Regions from separate parts of the Homo sapiens genome. Here regions 1, 3 and 4 are each reported to be linked to region 2. Evidence: microRNA targets listed by miRTarBase, many of them from high-throughput screens and not tested one by one. Region 2 holds a microRNA gene; each other region holds the end of a gene's coding sequence.

Region 1 (4,784 bases), not on the chromosome of region 2:
CGGTGTTTCACCATGTTGGCCAGGCTGGTCTCGAACTCCTGACCTCAGGTGATCTGCCTGCCTCGCCCTCCCAAAGTGCTGGTATTATAGGCATGAGCCACCGCACCAGGCCAAACCAGTGCTTCATATGCACTTACCATGCGGTCCTCTGAGCAACCCTTTGAGGTAGGTAGTGCTATGCTGCCCCATGCAGAGGGGAGAAAATGGATGCTCTAAAACGTGAAGTCCAGAGCAAGACTCCATCTCAAAATAAATTAAATAAATAAATAAAATGTGAAATCACATGCCTATGGGTGCACCACCAGTCTCAACAGGCAGCCTAGCATCCCAGCGCAGTTGTATCTTCAGAATAATACTTGGCTGGGGCTTAAGGAGTGACTGCAATGTGGGGGATTCTGAGCATCAGGATATATGTGGCAGGCAATTTCCAGTGCTTCATTGCATGTCCCTGTATGGGAAATCACCGTCTTAACATCTAAGTGGAAATGAGCAGGTTGGGTGTGGTGGCTCATGTCTGTAATCCCAGCACTTTGGGAGGCTGAGGCAGGAGGATTGCTCGAGCCTGGGAGTTCGAGACCAGCCTGGGCAACAGAGTGAGACCCTGTCTCTACAAAAAAGTTTAAAAATTGGATGGGCATGGTGGCACGCACCAGTGGTCCCAGCTACTCAGGAGGCTGAGGCGAGAGGATTGCTTGAGCCCAGAAGGTTGAGGCTGCAGTGAGCCGTGTTCACCCTACTGCACTCTGTACTCTAGCTTGGGCAAGACCCTGTTTCAAAAAAAAAAAAAGAAGGCGGCGAGAAAGAAATGAGCATAGAGTGCTGGAGAATGGCTACTGAAAGGTCAAATAAGATGAAGCCAGAGAAATGACCATTGGGTTTAGCAGCATGGATGTCACTGGCTCAGGGACATGGTGGGGAGAGACCCCAGACTGGAGTGAGTTGAAGAGAGAATAGTAATAGGGAAGTGGAGACAAGCTGAGGCTACTCTGGAGAAAGTTTACTGTGCAAAGGAGCAGAAAAATGGGCCAGTAATTGGAGAGGGTGATGAGGTCAGGTATAGTTGTGTGTGGTGGAGAGTAGAGGCAACATAACAAAAATTTACCATCATAACTATTTTTAAATGTACAGTTCAGTGGTAATTAATACATTCATAATGTTGTGTAACCATCACCATTCATCTCCATAACTCCTTTCACCTTGTAAAACTGAAACTCTGTACCTATTCCCCATTCCCCTCTCTGCCCAGCCCCTGACAACCACCCTTCTACTCTCTGTCCCTGCGATTTTGACTAAGTATCTAATGTAAGTGGAATCACACAGTATTTGTTTTTTTGTGATTGGCTTATTTCACATAGTTTAATGTCCTCAGGGTTCATCTATGTTGTAGCATGTGTCAGAATTTCTTTCCTTTTTGGCCGGGCACAGTGGCTCAGGCCTGTAATCCCAACACTTTGGAAGGCCGATCACTTGAGGTCAGGAGTTCGAGACCAGCCTGGCCAACATGGTGAAACCCCATCTCTACTAAAAATACACAAATTAGCTGGGTGTGGTGGTGCATGCCTGTAGTCCAGCTACTCGGGAGGCTCAGGTGGGAGAATCGCTTGAACCTGGGAGGCAGAGGTTGCAGTGAACCAAGATCACAACACTGCACTCTAGCCTGGGTGATAGAGTGAGACCCGGTCTCAAAAAAATAAAAAATACATGAAAAGTTGTAGGGTTGGGTGTAGACTCTGGAAGGTGGATTTTGAGAGCACGACAGTCCACCCAGGCTAAGGAGAGAGAAGAAGGGTGCAGTCATCCAGAGAACCGGAAGTCTGTCCTCGCGTGCTGAGGAGTTGGATGCTAGGGCCAGGCGTAACCTTTGTCTGTTTGTCTCCAGTGCCAGCACCAGCGCCAACCCCCCAGCAGGCCCCACCGCCTCCATCCCTGGTCCCCTTGGAGGCTACTGACAGCCTGCTGGAGCTGCCGCACCCACTCCTGCAGCAGACTGAGGACCAGTTCCTGTCCCCGACCCTGGCGTGCAGCTCCCCTCTGATCAGCTTCTCCCCATCCTTGGACCAGGACGACTACCTGTGGGGCTTGGAGGCGGGTGAGGGCATCAGCGATCTCTTCGACTCCTACGACCTTGGGGACCTGTTGATTAATTGAGTGGCCCTGCCTGCCCCCAGCAGCCTGCCCCCGACTCTACCTCCTCACAGACAGGCTGACAGCCCCTCTGCCTGCACAGGGACATTGGACACTAGGTGCTGCCCTCAGGGCATGGGGTCTCCTCGCCTTTCCTGCCCCAGCCGGCAGAAGCTGTGTGGGGAGATATGAATGGTACGGGTGAGGAGTGGATAAGGGGTGGTCCTCACCTTCCTAATGGAAGCTGGGCCTAGGGAGGCCCATCCAGTCTTCTGACTTCTGACCTCTCACAAGAAGGCTGCAGGTGAGGTGGCCAAGTCCAGGGAAAGGCCCTGCTACCTCCTTTTGAGGGGTAATTAGGACCCTCGACGTACCAAGAAGCACATAATGCCTTTGTATTTATTTCAGGTTGAGTTGTTTGTTTGTCCTCCCTGAGTTTTAGCAGGGAGGTTGTTCTAGTTTTTAGTGAGACCTCTGCAGACAGGCCCATCACTGTCCATGTTCCAGGGCAGGTCTGGGTTTCCAAGGGAGGGGCCCAGGCTACATCCTTGGTTTCCCCACTGTGGTGGGGGCTGGGACTCTGAGGGGCTGTCCAGTCTGCTAGAATGCTAATTGCACTTAGGCCTCATGGTTCTAGTAAACGGCAGCTGTGGGCCCTTTTGCCTCTTCCCCTGTTCTTGGCCTCACATCTCCAGCTGAGCTGCCGGTCTTGGCTTCCTGGTCGCCTCTGTCCCAGAGATGGTCCCAGGGAGCCATCCTAGGGCAGGTAGCACTGAGGCTCCTGTGGAAACAGGAGCCACCTGCTCAGGAGACCCCTTTCCTGAGGAAGTCCTTACCTCTCCCCTTGAGATGTAAAAATGGTCCAGCAGAGACAAGCTCCCGTGGAAAACAGACAGGAGCATGGGGGCAGCTGTCATGGCTGTGGCGGGCACTTTTCCTCAGAGTTTCTGCCTTGCGCTGGTCCAGGAGCCATTTTGCACCAAGGACTTGGTAGGCAGAGGCAGCCCCACTGTAAAGAAGGGTCAGATTAAAACAAAAAACTGCCAAAAGCATCCCCTCTGCCCCCCATGTGGCACTGGCATCATTCTCTGCTTCCCTGGGAGGAATTTTTTCACCATGTTATTGAAGGGGATGGTTCATTAAGGACTCCACCCCTCAGAGCTCACTCAGACCCCAAGGACAGAGGTGACTGGGGCTTGGTGACTTGTTCACTCCTTTTTTCCCAGGTATACTGAAGGGGTGACAGAGAGAGGTCTTCATGGCAGACCAGGCCTTCACAGCTAATGGGGAGAGGAACTCATGTTACCTCTGCAGGCCTGGGGTCCTGAGGGGGTCTTTTGGCTTCAGCCTGTTCCCCCAGAGGCTTGATCATCCCACATTGTCCCTTCAGCTCAGCTGCTCTTCTCCCCCACCCACCCTGGGATGTGGGTGCTCTGGGCTGAACCAAGGCTATGACTTCTGGAGAGAGGCTCAGGGGTTGGTCTGAGAGGCCTGCCATCCACCCCTCAGGGAGCTAGGTTTTCTCAGAGGCTCAGCTGGACAGCACTTTTTAGAAAAGTTTGTAGCATTAAGCTGGTTTAAAATATGAAGTTGGTTTTGTTGGATGGCTCCTGAGCTGACTGACTGATGTCTGAAGTTTGAGACGAGGGATTATTTCAGGGTGGGGCCCAATGTGATCTAATGCCCAGCTGGGGACAATTGTGCCTCATCATTTGCTCAAATTCCTGGGCCCCCAAGTTAGCCCCCTCCCAGGAGTGGTCAGCGGGTCACAGCTGCCCCCACTCTATAAGCAGGGCTAATTGTGTACCCTTTGCAGAAATGCTTTTGGTCTCCTACCCAAATACTCACAAGGGTCTTATCAGACGCCCGTCTTAAAGTCCAGCATGCTCAGGGACCCTGTGTAGGATCTCGTTTGTGGTGAGTGGGCTGCTCTGAGGTCTCCACTGGGCTGCCATTTAGCCATGTGCCATCTCTGAAGTCAGAGGTGTTTGACTCCCATTCCTTGGGCTCTGGAGCTTTCCCCAAGAATTACATCAGAGAAAAGGAAGAAGGGGCCTGCAGGACCCATTGGGAATGAGTTTAATACTGAAGTCTGGAATGTAAGCTCATGCCCTAGAGGCCTCTCCATATGGCTGGTCAGGGGAGCTGCCTTCAGGCTTGTGCCCCGTGTGCTCAGCAGCTGCCTCTGTCCCCCTCTACTGTCCCTTTCACACCTTGCCTGGCCAAGGGGCTAGACCTCCCAGGCTAAGCCTCAGATTCAGTGCAGGACACAAGCTCATGCCCCCGTCTTGCCAGTGACACTTGAAGCCTCCCGACTTCCACAGAGTGCTTCAGGACACATTTTGAGTGGTATTTTCTTTTCTTTTTTTCTTCTTTTTTTTTTTTTTTGAGATGGAGTCTCGCTCTGTTGCCCAGGCTGGAGTGCAGTGGCCTGATCTCGGCTCACTGCAACCTCTGCCTCCCAGGTTCAAGCGATTCTTCTGCCTCAGCCTCCAGAGTAGCTGGGACTATAGACATGCACCACCACGCCCGGCTAATTTTGTATTTTTGGTCGAGACGGGGTTTTGCCATGTTAGTCAGGCTGGTCTTGAACTCCTGACCTCAAGTGATCCACCACCTCGGCCTCCCAAAGTGTTGAGATGACAGGCACGAGCCACCAG
Region 2 (4,983 bases):
AAGACACAGATAAGGGACAGACAGGTCTTAGCCAGATGGAGAGGATTGACGACGGTCCTAGGGGACATGGTCAGGAAGGGTTTCTTGGAGAAGGTGGTGGGTTTTGAAGGATGAGTAGGAGTTCGCCAAGAGTGTAAGGGTATTCCAAGCTGAGAGAACTCAAAACCAAAGAACTGCAGTTACATTTGGGCAAATAATACAATCATAGAAAGCATTTATTGACCCCTTACTATTTGTTTTTTCTTTCTTTTTTTTTTTTTTTTGAGTTGGAGTCTCACTCTGTTGCCCAGGCTGGAGTGCAGTGGCGCGATCTCGGCTCACTGCAACCTCCTCCTCCTGGGTTCAAGTGATTCTCCTGCCTCAGCCTCCCAAGTAGCTGGGACTAAAGGCGTGCGCCACCACACCGGGAGAATTTTTGTATTTTTAGTAGAGACAAGGTTTCACTATGTTGGCCAGGCTGGTCTCGAACGCCTGACCTCGTGATCCACCTGCCTCAGCCTCCCAAAGTGCTGAGATTACAGGCGTGCGCCACCACACCCAGCCTGACCCCTTACTATTTCTTCAAATCCAATAAAAATCGCAATGCTTTTCCTTTCTGCACCATCGTGGTGTGTTCTTGACTCCACTTCTCGCCATATCTTCCTACAAGACTTTCAGGATTAAGCGATTCCTGGACAAGAAACAAAAGCAAAATCGTCCCATTCCCCAGTGGATTTGGATGAAAACTGGAAATAAAATCAGGTACAACTCCAAAAGGACACTGGAGAAGAACCAAGCTGGGTCTATAAGGAATTGCACATGAGATGGCACACATATTTATGCTGTCTGAAGGTCACGATCACGTTAGCATATCAAACTGAAAGTGTCACCACTATCTGGAGAGTTCGACGTGTTTTCCTCTCTGAATCTGTTATGAACGTGTGGGTTGGCTGGGTTCAGTAATAAATATGTGAGGCCTTTCATTTCAAAAAAAAAAATCGCGATACTCCACAAAGTAGGTAGGTTTATTTGCTCAATTTTCATGAAGGAAAAGCTGAGGCTCAGAGAGGTTGACAGGCCTCTGTATCTCACCTGCCTGCCTGCAGGAAAGTGCTCCACTCAGCTCAGGCTGTCTCAGCCTACCATTCACCAGACCATCTCCCCAGCTGCCAAGGCTGAGGCCCAAGTTCAGGGCAGGGCCTCTGTAGGCCGCCCACTCACCTCCTGCCTCAGGGAGAGGCATGACCCCGTCTCCTCCACTCTGGCCCCACTGCACGGGACCCAGAGAGGGGTTCCCAGGGCAGGGCTGGCTACAGGTCTGCGGGCTGGATCTTGTCCCACTAGGGATCTCTTTGTCCAGGATAGAACCTGGGCTAGAGAGCACAGAGACCCATGGATCTGAGTATGTATCTGTGTGTACCTGCGTCTGTCTATACAACACGAATACAGACAGACACAGGTGCACACACAGACACACACTCCAATAGGCAGACAGACACCTTCCTAACCAATCTAGAGACAAAACAAACCCACACCTCCAGTTCCCTGCCCTGGCAATTTGAATCCCAGGCCTGCCAGGCCAGGTCTTTATTATTATTATTATTATTATTATTATTATTATTATTATTATTTTTAAGATGGAGTCTTGCCCTGTTGCCCAGGCTGGAGTGTAGTGGCATGATTTCAGCTCACTGCAACCTCCATCTCCTGGGTTCAAGTGATTCTCCTTTCTCCAGAGCAGCTGGGATTACCGGTGCGCTCCCCATGCCTGGCTAATTTTTGTATTTTTAGTAGAGACAGGGTTTTGCCATATTGGCCAGGCTGGTCTCGAACTCCTGACCTCAGATGACTTGCCCGCCTCAGCCTCCCAAAGTGCTTATTACAGGTGTGAGCCACCTCGCCCAGCCTATTTTTTTTTTCTTCTTTTTTTTTTTTGAGACAGTGTCTCACTCTGTAGCCCAGGCTGGAGTGCAATGGCGCAATCTCGGCTCACTGCAACCTCCACCTCCCGGGTTCAAGCGATTCTCCTGCCTCAGCCTCCCGACTAGCTGGGATTACAGGCACCTGCCACCACACCTGGCTAATTTTTTTTTCTTTTCTTTTTTCTTTTTTTTTTTTGAGACGGAGTCTCGCTCTGTTGCCCAGGCTGGAGTGTAGTGGTGTGATCTCGGCTCACTGCAAGCTCTGCCTCCCGGGTTCATGCCATTCTCCTGCCTCAGCCTCCCGAGTAGCTGGGGACTACAGGCGCCCGCCACCATGCCCGGCTAATTTTTTTTTTTATTTTTCAGTAGAGACAGGGTTTCACCGTGTTAACCAGGATGGTCTTGATCTCCTGACCTCGTGATCAGCCTGCCTTGGCCTCCTAAAGTGCTGGGATGACAGGCGTGAGCCTCTGCGCCCAGCCTAATTTTTATTTTCAATAGAGATGGGGTTTCACCATGATGGTCAGGCTGGTCTCAAACTCCTGACCTCAAATGCCTGCCTCAGACTTCCAAAGTGCTGGGATTACAGGCAGGAGTCACCGCGTGTGGCCGACAGGCCACCTCTCTTGGTGATGAGGACAGCCTCCCTTATGGCCTTCATGCCCCAGTTGGGGGCAGAGCCAGGTGAGTAAGGAGGATAGAAAAGGAGTAACGCATGCCCACTGGCCAGGCAGACAAACTGAGGCTAGAGACCACCCACACAAGCAACCTTTTGTTGCATTCACCTTTATTTTTTATTTTTTTTTGAGACTGGAGTCTCACTCTGTCTCCCAGGCTGGAGTGCAGTGGCACAATCTCAGCTCACTGCAACCTCTGCCTCCCGGGTTCAAGCGATTCTCATGTCTCAGCCTCCTGAGTAGCTGGGATTACAGGTGCACACCACCACACCCGGTTAATTTTCGTATTTTTTTTTTTTTTTGTATTTTTGTATTTCGGCCAGTCTGGTCTTGAACTGCTGACCTCAAGTGATCTGCCTGCCTCGGCCTCCCAAAGTGCTGGGATTACAGGCATGAGCCACCACACCCAGCCCCGCATTCACCTTTAATACTGAGCATCCATTCTATGCGAGGCCCTGTCAGCAGGCTCAGCATAGGCAATGTCCCTGACCTTCAGGGACTATGGTCCACTCCATCATTCTGGCAGATTCAGAGGCTACAATAAAGGAGTAAAGTCTGAGGGTGGGGCACTTCCTGAAGACACATCTTTGCACTGGGGGAAGGGAGTACCAAGCAGAGAGCATAGCACGTGCAAAGGCCCAGAGGTACGATTAGTCCTGCAACTGGGAGGCCAAGGATCAGAGAGAGTGAGGGGAAGGAGGTCAGGGAAAGGAGGGTGTGGGCTCCATTCAGACAGAGGTGGGGAGCTGGAGGGGTGCATGCAGAGGCTGTAGGTCAGATCCAGATGTCCTAAGGATCCCTTGTGAGTATTGGTGGGGTGGGTCCATCTCTCCTCCCTCACACCCCCTTCCCAGCCAGTCTTAATAGTGGCTCATTAAGCCCTAACAGCCATGATAGTGGTAACAAGCATGTAATAATTATACCCGGCATTCCTGCCTCATCAGCCCAGCCCCTGGAGTTGGGCACCCTCGCCCAGGACATCACAGCCCTGGCAGACCTGGGGTTAAAACGTGGGCGGCGGAAGGAAGGGGCTGCGCAGGGGCCTGGACTCCCAGGTTCTAGGGTTCTAAGGGTGGACAAGAGCTCAGGCCTAGTCACAGCCCGGGCCCTGCTGTGACTCCTAGCTAACTCTCGGGGGATGGTCACTCCACCTCTCTGAGCCCAGTTTCCCATCTGTAAAGGCAGGAAGTAGGACTCCTGGTTCTAGAACGCACTCAGTGAAAATGATCAGGATCCAAGCGCTTTCAGCAACTTCTGGCGACCCTCCTCTCCCCTCCCGTCTCTTCCTGAGCAATCACACGCGGGGTGGAGGGAGGGAGGGAAGGAAGGAGGGAGGGTGAGGAACGCAGACCTCCCCACACCCCCGGCGAGCCCCCGGACACAGCCCCACCAGGCCTCCAGCCCCGTATCCGCACAAAGCCTCTCCAGAAGGCGCGCTAGGGGAGGCCCTGGCGGCACAGCAGAGCAGGAGGCGCCAAGGAGTTATTTAGCCATGCGGGACCCCATCCCCCTCCAGTCCCCGGAGGCCGGCACCGCCCCCGCCCCCGCCCCCGCCCGGCCGGGGCCCCACGCGCGGACACGGGGCGGGGCCTCGGGGCGGGCGGGCGCCTGGTGGCCCGGGCCCATCACGCCACCCGGGACGTGCCTTGGCGGAGGCGGCGCCGGGGAGATCGGTCGTACACAGCGGTCCCGGGGCGGGGTGACCCGGCCCGGGCGCGCGGCCGCCCCCATGACGTCAACCCACAAGGCAGCGCGCTGTTGTGGCGTTTACCGCGCGTCGCCGGGGCAACGGCGGCCGGGCGGGCGTCGGCGGCTTGGCCCCGCCCCTCCATGCAAATGAGCGACGTCACCCGCACCCAATGGCGAACGGGGGCGGTGAGCTCATCGCGCCGAGCCGAGGCTATAAGAGGGCGCACAAGTGGCGCGGCGCAGGAGCCGCCGCCAGTGGAGGGCCGGGCGCTGCGGCCGCGGCCGGGGCGGGCGCAGGGCCGAGCGGACGGGGGGGCGCGGGCCCCCCGGGAGGCCGCGGCCACTCCCCCCCGGGCCGGCGCGGCGGGGGAGGCGGAGGATGGAAACACCCTTCTACGGCGATGAGGCGCTGAGCGGCCTGGGCGGCGGCGCCAGTGGCAGCGGCGGCAGCTTCGCGTCCCCGGGCCGCTTGTTCCCCGGGGCGCCCCCGACGGCCGCGGCCGGCAGCATGATGAAGAAGGACGCGCTGACGCTGAGCCTGAGTGAGCAGGTGGCGGCAGCGCTCAAGCCTGCGGCCGCGCCGCCTCCTACCCCCCTGCGCGCCGACGGCGCCCCCAGCGCGGCACCCCCCGACGGCCTGCTCGCCTCTCCCGACCTGGGGCTGCTGAAGCTGGCCTCCCCCGAGCTCGAGCGCCTCATCATCCAGTCCAACGGGC
Region 3 (4,757 bases), not on the chromosome of region 2:
CCCCAAAACTGCGCTCGACCCGGCTGCGTCCAGGGTCTCTAGTCCCCCCACTAGAGACTGAGAAGTTGCCTCGCAAACGAGCAGGGGCCCCAGTTGGTGGGAGTCCTGGGCTGGCAAAGCGGGGCCGCCTACAGCCCCCAAGTCCCCTGGGGCCTGAGGGTTCAGTAGAGGAGTCTGAGGCTGAAGCCTCAGGTGAGGAGGAGGAAGGGGATGGGACCCCACGCCGACGTCCTGGCCCCCGCCGGCTTGTTGGGACCACCAACCAAGGGGACCAGCGCATCCTGCGCAGCAGCGCCCCTCCCTCCCTGGCTGGCCCTGCTGTTAGTCACAGAGGCCGCAAGGCCAAGACGTGAGTGGGCTGCCCCTCCACCTAGGCTTTCCACCGTGGCCACTCCCTCCATGACCAGGCCTGACTCTGTTAACCACTACTTGAAGTCTTGAGGGGGAAAGCCTCCAGGGAGACATAGGGGCCTTCTCCCTTCTTCCCACCAAAGTAGGGGGTAGGCAACTGGTTGTCATGGAAATGGGGATCATCACAGTCCCCTTCCCCTTCACCCCACGTGGCTGGGCAGTGTTAAGGGTGGCAAGATAGTCTCTGTCCCCACCCCCTTGTACTTGATTCCCCAGCTGTCTTTCACACAGCCCCCCACCCTTAGGGGAAGGGGGAGGGGCTTCTCTACAATGAGGTTTTTTTCTTTTTTTTTTTTTTTTAAGAAGAAAAAATAATAAACTTAGTTTCTGTATGAGCATCCGCGTAAGGAGGCTTCTGATTTTCTGGTCTGGTGGAGGGTTGGGTGGGAACTTGGGCATCGTTTTTCTCCTCCCTCTTGTTCTTGCAAAGATCCTAGCACCTGATCTCTAGCCCAGGACTATATGTTCCAGGCAGAAATCTACCCAAGAAGAGGGAAGATTGGTGAATTTGATGTGGTAGGGTGCCTTTCCCCAGTCAGTTTGAAGTCACAGATATCCTTTTCCTCTCATTTCTTTTCCCTCGGTTCCTAGACGTTCCTCGGAGCTCTTTGATGCCTCAGACCTTTCCCTTTTATCCCTCTTGCTCAGGTGCTTCCTTTCACAACTTTTTCCAGAGGGCAGGCGTCCTAGCTCCAGTTGCTCCATCCCTTGGGCCCTCCCCTGCTCTTCATCTAGCCAAACTGGTTTGAGTCAGCCACACCCCTTCCCAGCTCCCTGGGCTCTTCACGTGGTGGCTGGCCACTCAACCCCACCCCTGGGCTTGGCTTGGAGCCCTGAGTCAGCTCCATCACCACCCAAGCCAAACCAAAGCTGAGGCAGGAGCCGAAACTCAGAGTCCTTCAAGGCCTATAGCCAGGTAAGAGCCCTGTTCATTTTTACATTCTCTGTTCACTCCCTGGGCCCTCCTTGTGTCCTCCTGTTGACTCTGTGCTTACCTCATCTGAGTTATTTCTTTGTATCTACTTCCCTGCAGCTTCTTGGCACACATCATTCTTTGCTCTCTACTTGTCTCGCCCCTTTCACCTTTCCTATCCTTCGTTACTTGGGTTCAGGGAGCCAAGGTGGTTTCATTTTGTCTGGGTTGTAGGGGAATGGTTGGAGATAAGGGTAGAAAGGTGGTTTGATGCCAGGGCCTAGAGGACCTGAGAAGTAGGGAGACAAGAAATGATTAAGTAGGGCATCATTTTGCAGGTTTCTGTGTGGTAATGAGGTCATTTAGACTCAGTGTACTAGTCTGATTGTGTTATGTGGCCTGGGTTAAATTGGAGAGAGGAGGTGGCAGGGAGGCAGCATAGCAGAGGAAGCCCTGACTTAGGGAAGTAAAGTCTTTCTGATGTTTGGTTTTAGTGGTAATAAAGGGCTTACTTGGGTACATTTTCCTTACCTTTCTCCATTCCCATAACTGTTTTCATGTAAAATGGCTGCTTTGCTTGAAACGGGTTGCAGTACCTAGGGTCCTGCTCTCTGACATCTATAATACTCAGGGGGCAGCCTCTTGGGAATTTGGGGGAATTGTAGAGTCCTTTGAAATACAGATTAAAATAACAGATTCATAGCAGCTTTCAAGAGTTTGTATTTTTCCTCCTTCTCGGTGTGCACCTGTCATTTGGCTTCTTCCCACTTGTTGAAACACTAAATAATACAGATAATGCCTTGTCTACACTGGCTTGCTTTCAAAGACTCAGAACCTCAAGCTTAGGTAAAAGGATTCCAGCCACACATTTCCTCTCCTGCTCTGTGAGTCACTAGAGGAATTCCCCAGTAAGGCAACATTCCTGAGTGCCAGGCTAGGCCATGAGAACAGAATGCTCTGAGAGGGGTGGAGTCTGAGCAAGCAAGGCCAAGGGCTCTGTTGTTGGGCTCACAAGTACCTTGACTATCGCCCACAGGTGATGGAGGACGAGGAGAAGGCAGTGGAGATCTTGGGCAACACGGAAGCTGCTCATCCTCCATCCCCCATCCGCTGCTGCTGGCTCCGCCTCCGCTGCTTGGCAGCTACTAGCATTATCTGTGGCTGCTCTTGCCTGGGAGTCATGGCTCTGGTGTTTGCCATCAAGGTGAGGAGTGCAATTCCCATGGGAATGGGGGTGGGTATAAGGCAATGGTTTCATGTATCTGATCTATCTACATTGACCAGTCACTGAATACCTATCAGTGCTCTGGGCCTAGTGCCAGAAATAAGAATAAGACAGGGTTCCTTGTCGTCAGAGGACCCATAATCTAATGAAAGAGGTGACAGTGAAAATGGGTAATTAATAGAATGCAGTTCATCAGTACCGTAATACAGGAAGCACAGGACAGTGTGGGAGCCAGGGAAGATCTATGTATGTAATTATATATGTGTATATGGTAGAATAGGTGACTGGAAAGGCATCCTAGGAGAGGTGACAGGATTAATCTTAAAGGGTGAGTGAGTAAGTGTGGAAGGGCATTCCAGATAAAAGGAGCAGTGTGTACAAAGGCCTGTGGAGCATGACTGGACCAGTGAGGAATAGTGAGAGATGAAGCTAGAGGACCCAGATTCCCAAGGGCCTCCAGTTCTGTGCTTAAGAGTTTTGACTTTATCTTGAAAGTACTGGGGAGGCATTGAATGGCTCCTGCAGGGGAAAGTGACATGGTCAGATTTGAGTTTTAGGAAGATCCACTCTCAAGGCCTACATCGAGGGTGAATTGGAGGGGGCAAGGCTGGAGGCCGCTGAACGGTGATGAGCGCAATCTCTAGGAGTCTGAAAGACACTTGGGTTTTTGAGAGGGCTTCACCATTTCAAAAAGCCTATTAGAAACAGCACATGTCCGCCGGGCGTGGTGACTTAGGCCTGTAATCCCAGCACTTTGGGAGGCCGAGGTGGGCAGATCACGAGGTTAGGAGATCGAGACCATCTAGGCCAACATGGTAAAACCCCGTCTCTACTAAAAATACAAAAATTAGCTGGGCGTGATGGTGCGTGCCTGTAATCCCAGCTACTGGGGAGGCTGAGGCAGGATCATTGCTTGAACCACGGAGTCGGAGGTTGCATTGAGCTGAGATCATGCCACTGCACTCCAGCCTGGTGACAAAGCAAGACTCTGTCTCAAAAAAAAAAAAAAACAAAAAAAAACAGCACATGTCCTTTAGGAAAGGCTACACAGGCTAACTTAAACTTCATGCTGGAATCTTCTCAACCCTAGACATATTTTAACAGTCAGAAACTGTAAGAACTCCTGGGTTCCATTAGGGCAAAATCCTAAAAAGGGCCCTTAATGATAACAAAGAGGCTGGGCGCAGTGGCTCACGCCTGTAATCCCAGCACTTTGGGAGGCCGAGGTGGGCAGATCACTTGAGGTCAGGAGTTCGAGACCAGCCTGACCAACATGGTGAAACCCCGTCTCTACTAAAAATACAAAATTAGCTGGGCGTGGTGGCACGTACCTGTTATCCCATCTATTTGGGAGGCTGAGACACGAGAATTGCTTGAACCTGGGAGGAGGAGGTTGCAGTGAGATTGCACCACTGCACTCCAGCCTGGGTGACAGGAGTGAAACTGTCTCAAAAAAAGAAAAAAAAAAGATGGAAAAGATGAGGCCCATTGGGCTATGAGAATGAGGTGGTGTTTGGGCATGAGTGAAGTTACTCTAGCCTCACTGTTTCTTGCCAATAGTTACAAATTCTGAATCAATCTTGGATAGTTGGAAAGAATGGGGAATAACAGAATTGGAAAGTACTTTCCCATAGGCGATCTTGTGAGCTATGGCCACCCTGAGAAGTAGGCAGGGCCCAGAGATGGGTACCTTATTTTGCAGATGAGAGGTTAGAATCAGAAACTGGAAAGGGAGGTAGAGGGTTTGGATGTGAGATTTTGATCCGTGACAGGGAAGGGGGAGCGGAGTGGGGAAATGGGCACCTTGGGGCAGAAGCAGGGGGAGAACCTAACCAAGAACCTGCCCCCACAGGCGGAAGAGCGGCATAAAGCAGGCCGGTCCGAGGAGGCAGTGCGCTGGGGGGCCCGGGCCCGGAAACTCATCCTGGCCAGCTTTGCTGTCTGGCTTGCTGTCCTCATTCTGGGTCCCCTGCTGCTGTGGTTGCTCTCCTACGCCATCGCTCAGGCTGAGTGACCCTGGATGGCCTCTGCTGAGAGCCAGCCGAGACCTCCTGGATCCTGCAATGCGGCATTGCTAAGGTCCTGTGACAGCAGTGGTTGGAAGGATCCTGGTTGGAAGGATGGGGACTCTCTCAAGGGGCTTTGGAAGAGCTCTTCTAGCCCTTTATAAAAGGAGGGCAGCAGCTGAGACTGATGAGAGGAGGGCAG
Region 4 (4,989 bases), not on the chromosome of region 2:
TTGTTCATTTCTTCTCTTTTTTCTCTAAACTTCTCTTCTCACTTCATTTCATTCATTTGATCTTCAATCACTGATACCCTTTTTTCCACTTGATCAAATTGGCTACTGAAGCTTGTGCATGCATTAAGTTATTTCTCGTGCCATGGTTTTCAGCTCCATCCGGTCATTTAAGGTCTTCTCTACACTGTTTATTCTAGTTAGCCATCTGTCTAATCTTTTTTCAAGGTTTTTAGCTTCTTTGCGATGGGTTTGAACATCCTCCTTTAGCTTGGAGAAGTTTGTTATTACCAATCGTCTGAAGCTTTCTTCTCTCAACTCATCAAAGTCATTCTCCATCCAGCTTTGTTCCATTGCTGGCGAGGAGCTGTGTTCCTTTGGAGGAGAAGAGCTGCTCTGATTTTTAGAATTTTCAGCTTTTCTGCTCTGGTTTCTCCCCATCTTTTTGGTTTTATCTACCTTTGGTCTTTGATGATGGTGATGTGCAGATGGGGTTTTGGTGTGGATTTCCTTTCTGTTTATTAGTTTTCCTTCTAACAGTCAGGACCGTGAGCTACAGGTCTGTTGGAGTTCACTGGAAGTCCACTCCAGACCCTGTTTGCCTGGGTATCGCCAGTGGAGGCTATAGAACAGCAAATATTGCAGAACGGCAAATGTTGCTGCCTGATCCTTCCTCTGGAAGCTTCATCTCAGAGGGGCTCCCAGCTGTTTGAGGTGTCAGTCGGCCCCTACTGGGAGGTGTCTCCCAGTTAGGCTCCTCGGAGGTCAGGGACCCATTTGAGGAGGCAGTCTGTCCGTTCTCAGATCTCAACCTCTGTGCTTGGAGAACCACTACTCTCTTCAAAGCTGTCAGATAGGGATGTTTAAGCCAGCAGAAGTTTTTGCTGCCTGTTGTTCAGCTATGCCCTGCCCCCAGATGTGGAGTCTACAGAGGCAGGCAGGCCTCCTTGAGCTGCAGTGGGCTCCACCCAGTTCGAGCTTCCCAGCTGCTTTGTTTGCCTACTCAAGCCTCAGCAATTGTGGACGCCCCTCCCCCAGCCTTGCTGCCACCTTGCAGTTCGATCTCAGACTGCCATGCTAGCAGTGAGCGAGGCTCTGTGGGCATGGGACCCTGTGAGCCAGGCGCAGGATATAATCTCCTGGTGTGCCATTTGCTAAGACCATTGGAAAAGCGTAGTATTAGGGTGGGAGTGTCCCGATTTTCCAGGTATCATCTGTCATGGCTTCCCTTGGCTAGGAAAGGGAATTCCCTGACTCCTTGCACTTCCTGGGTGAGGCGATGCCCGCCCTGCTCTGTTGGCTGCACCCACTGTCCGACAAGTCCCAGTGAGAGAAACCCAGTACCTCAGTTGGAAATGCAGAAATCACCCATCTTCTGCATTGCTCATGCTGGGAGCTGTAGACTGCAACTGTTCTTATTTGGCCATCTTGGAACATCCGATATATAACACATTTTTATAAGTTACTTGGTAAAATTGTTTGAAATGACTGTTGTAAAAAGTGAAAAAAAATTAATTACAAATCTCAATATTCCTGAGGTACAATCATTATTTCACATTTTACAAATTAAATGTATAAAACATAATACACACACTACACCCTGAACAGTAAACTAGCAGTAATGTTTGAGAGGAAACTATTTAAGTAACTGAAATCGTTTATACAGATTAAATTTATAATTCACAGGAGGGGAACTCCATTCATCCTAGAAGGCTCAGCCCGTGGCACCCCTCCTGTGGTGGTTTCTCCCATCCCTATTTCCCCAGGCACAATCAGATTTACAGCCCTTTCTGCTCCCATTGCACCTATTCCATGCTCTATACCTACTGCGGAATTGTATGTTAACTCTTTGCCTCTTTACAGTTCCTCCTGCCCCCACCAGTCGACTATGAGAACCTTTGTTTTATCTACTTTGATTTTCCTGTCCTTAACACAGTGCCTAGGATTCATACATTGATTGGACAGGATTTTATTGTCAATTATGAGCAATCGTATGACCAAGTTGAGCAAGATAAACCCTGCTCTAGATTAGACTACTAGTTCACAGTCTAGTAGGGGAGAAAGTATGTACACGAATCATTAACATGCAGAGTGATACATTAATGAAGGTATATACCAGGTAGAGCAGTGACTTTGCCTGGGGATGTATTCCTGAGGAAGTAACTAGTCAGCTGAGCTGTTCAACAAGCATTAGGCATTAACTCTGCTGGTGATGTGCTGGATGGCTAGTGAATAGAAAATTGAATAGAAAGAGCATTTACCTTCCCTCCAAAGATATACAATCTTGAATGAATAGTTCGAGTAACAATGGCACGGGTAGTCAATAAGGTAGCAAGGCTGATAGCCAATGGGGTAAACTGTTAAAATATTGAACTCTTCTATACCAGTGGTAAATAGCAGTCACTACCAGCACCTGTCTATTTGTTCTTTACTCTACCTCCCCTCAGTACTCCCAATCCCCTCCTATATGACCCATAGACCCTCCTGTGTTCCAGCAAGTAAAGAGTCAATACCCTTATGTACTAAACATTTTACACATAATTCCAAGGGATGCACTTTGCCAAGAAAGAAAAAAATTACAAGCTTTGAAATAGCAGTATTTGGTAAACTGCAGTTAAAAGCCAGGGTATGAAGTTCGAGTTGGGGAAAAGAGAAAATGGAACTGAAGAATTGAGAAGGGCAATGAAGAGCCACAGAAAAATTTTAAGCAGATCTGTTTTAAAAAAAATTCTGTCCAACATTAGTATGTAAGTGCTCATTAATATTTGTTGAATATGATTATGCTAATAATAATTTACACAAACCTCTAACCAATGGGAGAAAAAGAAGCTTTCATAAACATGGACTTAGATGCAGGGAATTTATTCCATTATCCATACAAATTACAGACTCTATGATTCTACTGTAACTTTGCAATTGGTGATTTCAGTATTACAGACGTGAATACTGAGAAATAATTAGGGGAAGAAAATCAAACGTGGCTGATCTGGACTGTTTTTTCTTCTATTTCACTCAGAACTTTTAAACACATAGTATGACTAAATGCGGATAAAGGGGTTTACCCATCATTGTGAATAGGCATGAGATCACTCAGAAATGTTGGATTACAAAGGGCCAATAAGAAAGGCTTGACTGTATGCAAGTGTCGACAGAATGGGTTCTCCATTACTTTGATTCCTTATTTTCAGAAGAGATAAGAAATTCCTCATTAATGGATGTACTCAATGAGAATTAAATACTCAAAACAGGACCTTAGCAAATCATTGTTTTATTTTAACATCACTGTTTACTGTTCTTCCTAACTGGCAGTTACTCCTTTGTAGATAGTACAAATCACAATGTAATTCCCATCATTATGTGTATAATATGTGTTCCTTCTTGTTCTACCTTAACAGCAAGTGACAAATACATCATTTTTATTGAATATTAATTTTCAATTTATTTCAGCAGCAAGCACCAAAATCAAAACCCAACAATCAATATAATAAGTATATGTAACAAATAATCTGAAATTCAGCCCCATTAAGACATGTGGGTGCAATATTTTTATATTCCCAAAGGTCTGCATATTTTGGGGGCATTAAACAACAGGGAACTAAAATTTAACACAAAATCAGGTGCCATTTAATACTGTTTAACATTTGAAAATTATTTATTTAATAATACAGATCGTTTTAATGTGCTGTAAATATTTCTCGCACAGCATCATATTGTCAGAAGTTTTTCCCTTTTGGAGGCTTCTTTTTTCCATTCCTTTCCAGTAACTGGCCTCCCAATGCCAGCAACTCAGGTAGATTCATGCAGTCATTCCTCTTCTCTCTGTACTGGTAAGCGCTCTGGAGGAAGAACAGATTCCAATTTCTGCCAGCGCTCTGGGGGCCACAGGATATGTGTGGCATGGGCATGCAGAAGTCCTAGGGAAACCTTAATTCATGAGAAACAGAAAGAAAGCAATAAAGAGATCATTTTATAAGAATCATTATTAATAGCTTGAAAGCAGAATTTAATCCAGGTTTAACATCCCAGGGAGAAGTGATGATGAATAAAAAAAATAGTAAACACCTTTTGTAGCCATTGAAATACAAAGAAAAATACAGTAAGCACTTATATAGCATTTTTCTAGGTGCTATTGTATATAAACTCCTTTAATCCTCACAAAAACCATTTGAAGTAGGTTCTGTTAGTATTTCCCTTTTAGAAATGAGAAAGCAAAGCTCAAAGAGGTTAAAAAATTTGCCAAAATTCATACAGCTACCAAGCGGTTAGTCTGTGTTTAGAACCAAGCAGTTTGACTCGAGTCCACCATCTTAACCATTAGCCTCAAGAGCCTATTTGCATAGACCCAGGAAGCATAAATCTGGCGTATATTCTCAGAGTTTCCCGCAGAGTCATTGGTATCCTAGAGAGACTTTCTTTATGGAAAAATCACAGAGTCCTAAAAAATATATATATTTTGTGAAAAACATTGTCCCACCTACTAGATGAGCAGCAGGAGTTAGGTGTGAGACTGGGTGGGCTGTCTCCATGGAGAGTACACTGAGTAACACGGATCTAGTACTCATGGAGAGAGGTGGAAAACAAAGAGAAAGCAAACAAGGTGGGATGGGTAGCAAGGAAAAATAATAAAGTATACAGATCATGGCAGATGGTAAAGAATCCCCATCAGCAGAGGAGAGCAGAGATTGGCGAGGATGGAAGAGGAGGTGAGGGGGAGGACTTAAGGCTGAGCCCAAAGACAGGAAGGGAGCCCTTAAACATCTTAAATCTTAAAGACATCAATTTCGGTGAACAGGAGAACATAGCAAACTTGTTTAAAAGGCAGATCAGGGTCTTATCTTAAGAGATTACCCTTCAACAGGTCTGAAGGAGGGCCTGGAAATCTGTGTTTTTAAAAAAATTGTTGTTGTTATAGTTACTATCAGGTGATATTTTAATGGTATTTAGAAGCTTACAAAATACACTCATATTTAGCACATATTTACTGAGTGCCGG

What was found. The annotated mature microRNA hsa-miR-3188 reads AGAGGCUUUGUGCGGAUACGGGG and lies in region 2 at 3,980-4,002, opposite strand. An mRNA with a match to its seed (bases 2 to 7 or 8) in the 3' UTR can be bound and repressed. Matches are read on the target gene's strand: a 7mer-m8 pairs with bases 2 to 8, a 7mer-A1 pairs with bases 2 to 7 and ends in A, and an 8mer does both.
Region 1: miRTarBase lists E2F2 as a target of hsa-miR-3188. Seed matches in the 3' UTR shown: 8mer at 4,371-4,378 and 7mer-m8 at 4,429-4,435.
Region 3: the mRNA of SRCAP is a reported target of hsa-miR-3188. Seed matches in the 3' UTR shown: 7mer-m8 at 448-454.
Region 4: miRTarBase lists IMMP2L as a target of hsa-miR-3188. Seed matches in the 3' UTR shown: 7mer-m8 at 3,731-3,737.

What each region holds. Positions count from the first base shown.
Region 1 is chr1:23,507,244-23,512,027 of GRCh38, reverse strand. It overlaps E2F2 (E2F transcription factor 2), which reads left to right. Exons shown (of 7, transcript NM_004091.4): 7 at 1,880-4,784. The coding sequence ends at 2,148. Among named protein-coding and RNA genes, the nearest start is that of E2F2, 22 kb to the left of the region's middle.
Region 2 is chr19:18,281,148-18,286,130 of GRCh38, reverse strand. It overlaps MIR3188 (microRNA 3188), which reads right to left and starts at 4,054; the gene lies at 3,970-4,054. JUND (JunD proto-oncogene, AP-1 transcription factor subunit) reads left to right here and starts at 4,509. Exons shown (of 1, transcript NM_005354.6): 1 at 4,509-4,983. The coding sequence starts at 4,647. It overlaps LOC124904652 (a long non-coding RNA gene), which reads right to left and starts at 4,039. Exons shown (of 2, transcript XR_007067154.1): 1 at 3,001-4,039; 2 at 198-670. It also overlaps the pseudogene RPL39P38. RefSeq lists a silencer at 4,031-4,983 and an enhancer at 4,524-4,983.
Region 3 is chr16:30,739,381-30,744,137 of GRCh38, forward strand. It overlaps SRCAP (Snf2 related CREBBP activator protein), which reads left to right. Exons shown (of 34, transcript NM_006662.3): 34 at 1-2,029. The coding sequence ends at 353. It overlaps TMEM265 (transmembrane protein 265), which reads left to right and starts at 1,262. Exons shown (of 3, transcript NM_001256829.2): 1 at 1,262-1,327; 2 at 2,361-2,528; 3 at 4,402-4,757. The coding sequence starts at 2,364. The coding sequence ends at 4,563. RefSeq lists an enhancer at 1,550-2,749.
Region 4 is chr7:110,659,801-110,664,789 of GRCh38, forward strand. IMMP2L (inner mitochondrial membrane peptidase subunit 2) reads right to left here. Exons shown (of 6, transcript NM_032549.4): 6 at 2,844-3,921. The coding sequence ends at 3,802. Among named protein-coding and RNA genes, the nearest start is that of LRRN3, 430 kb to the right of the region's middle.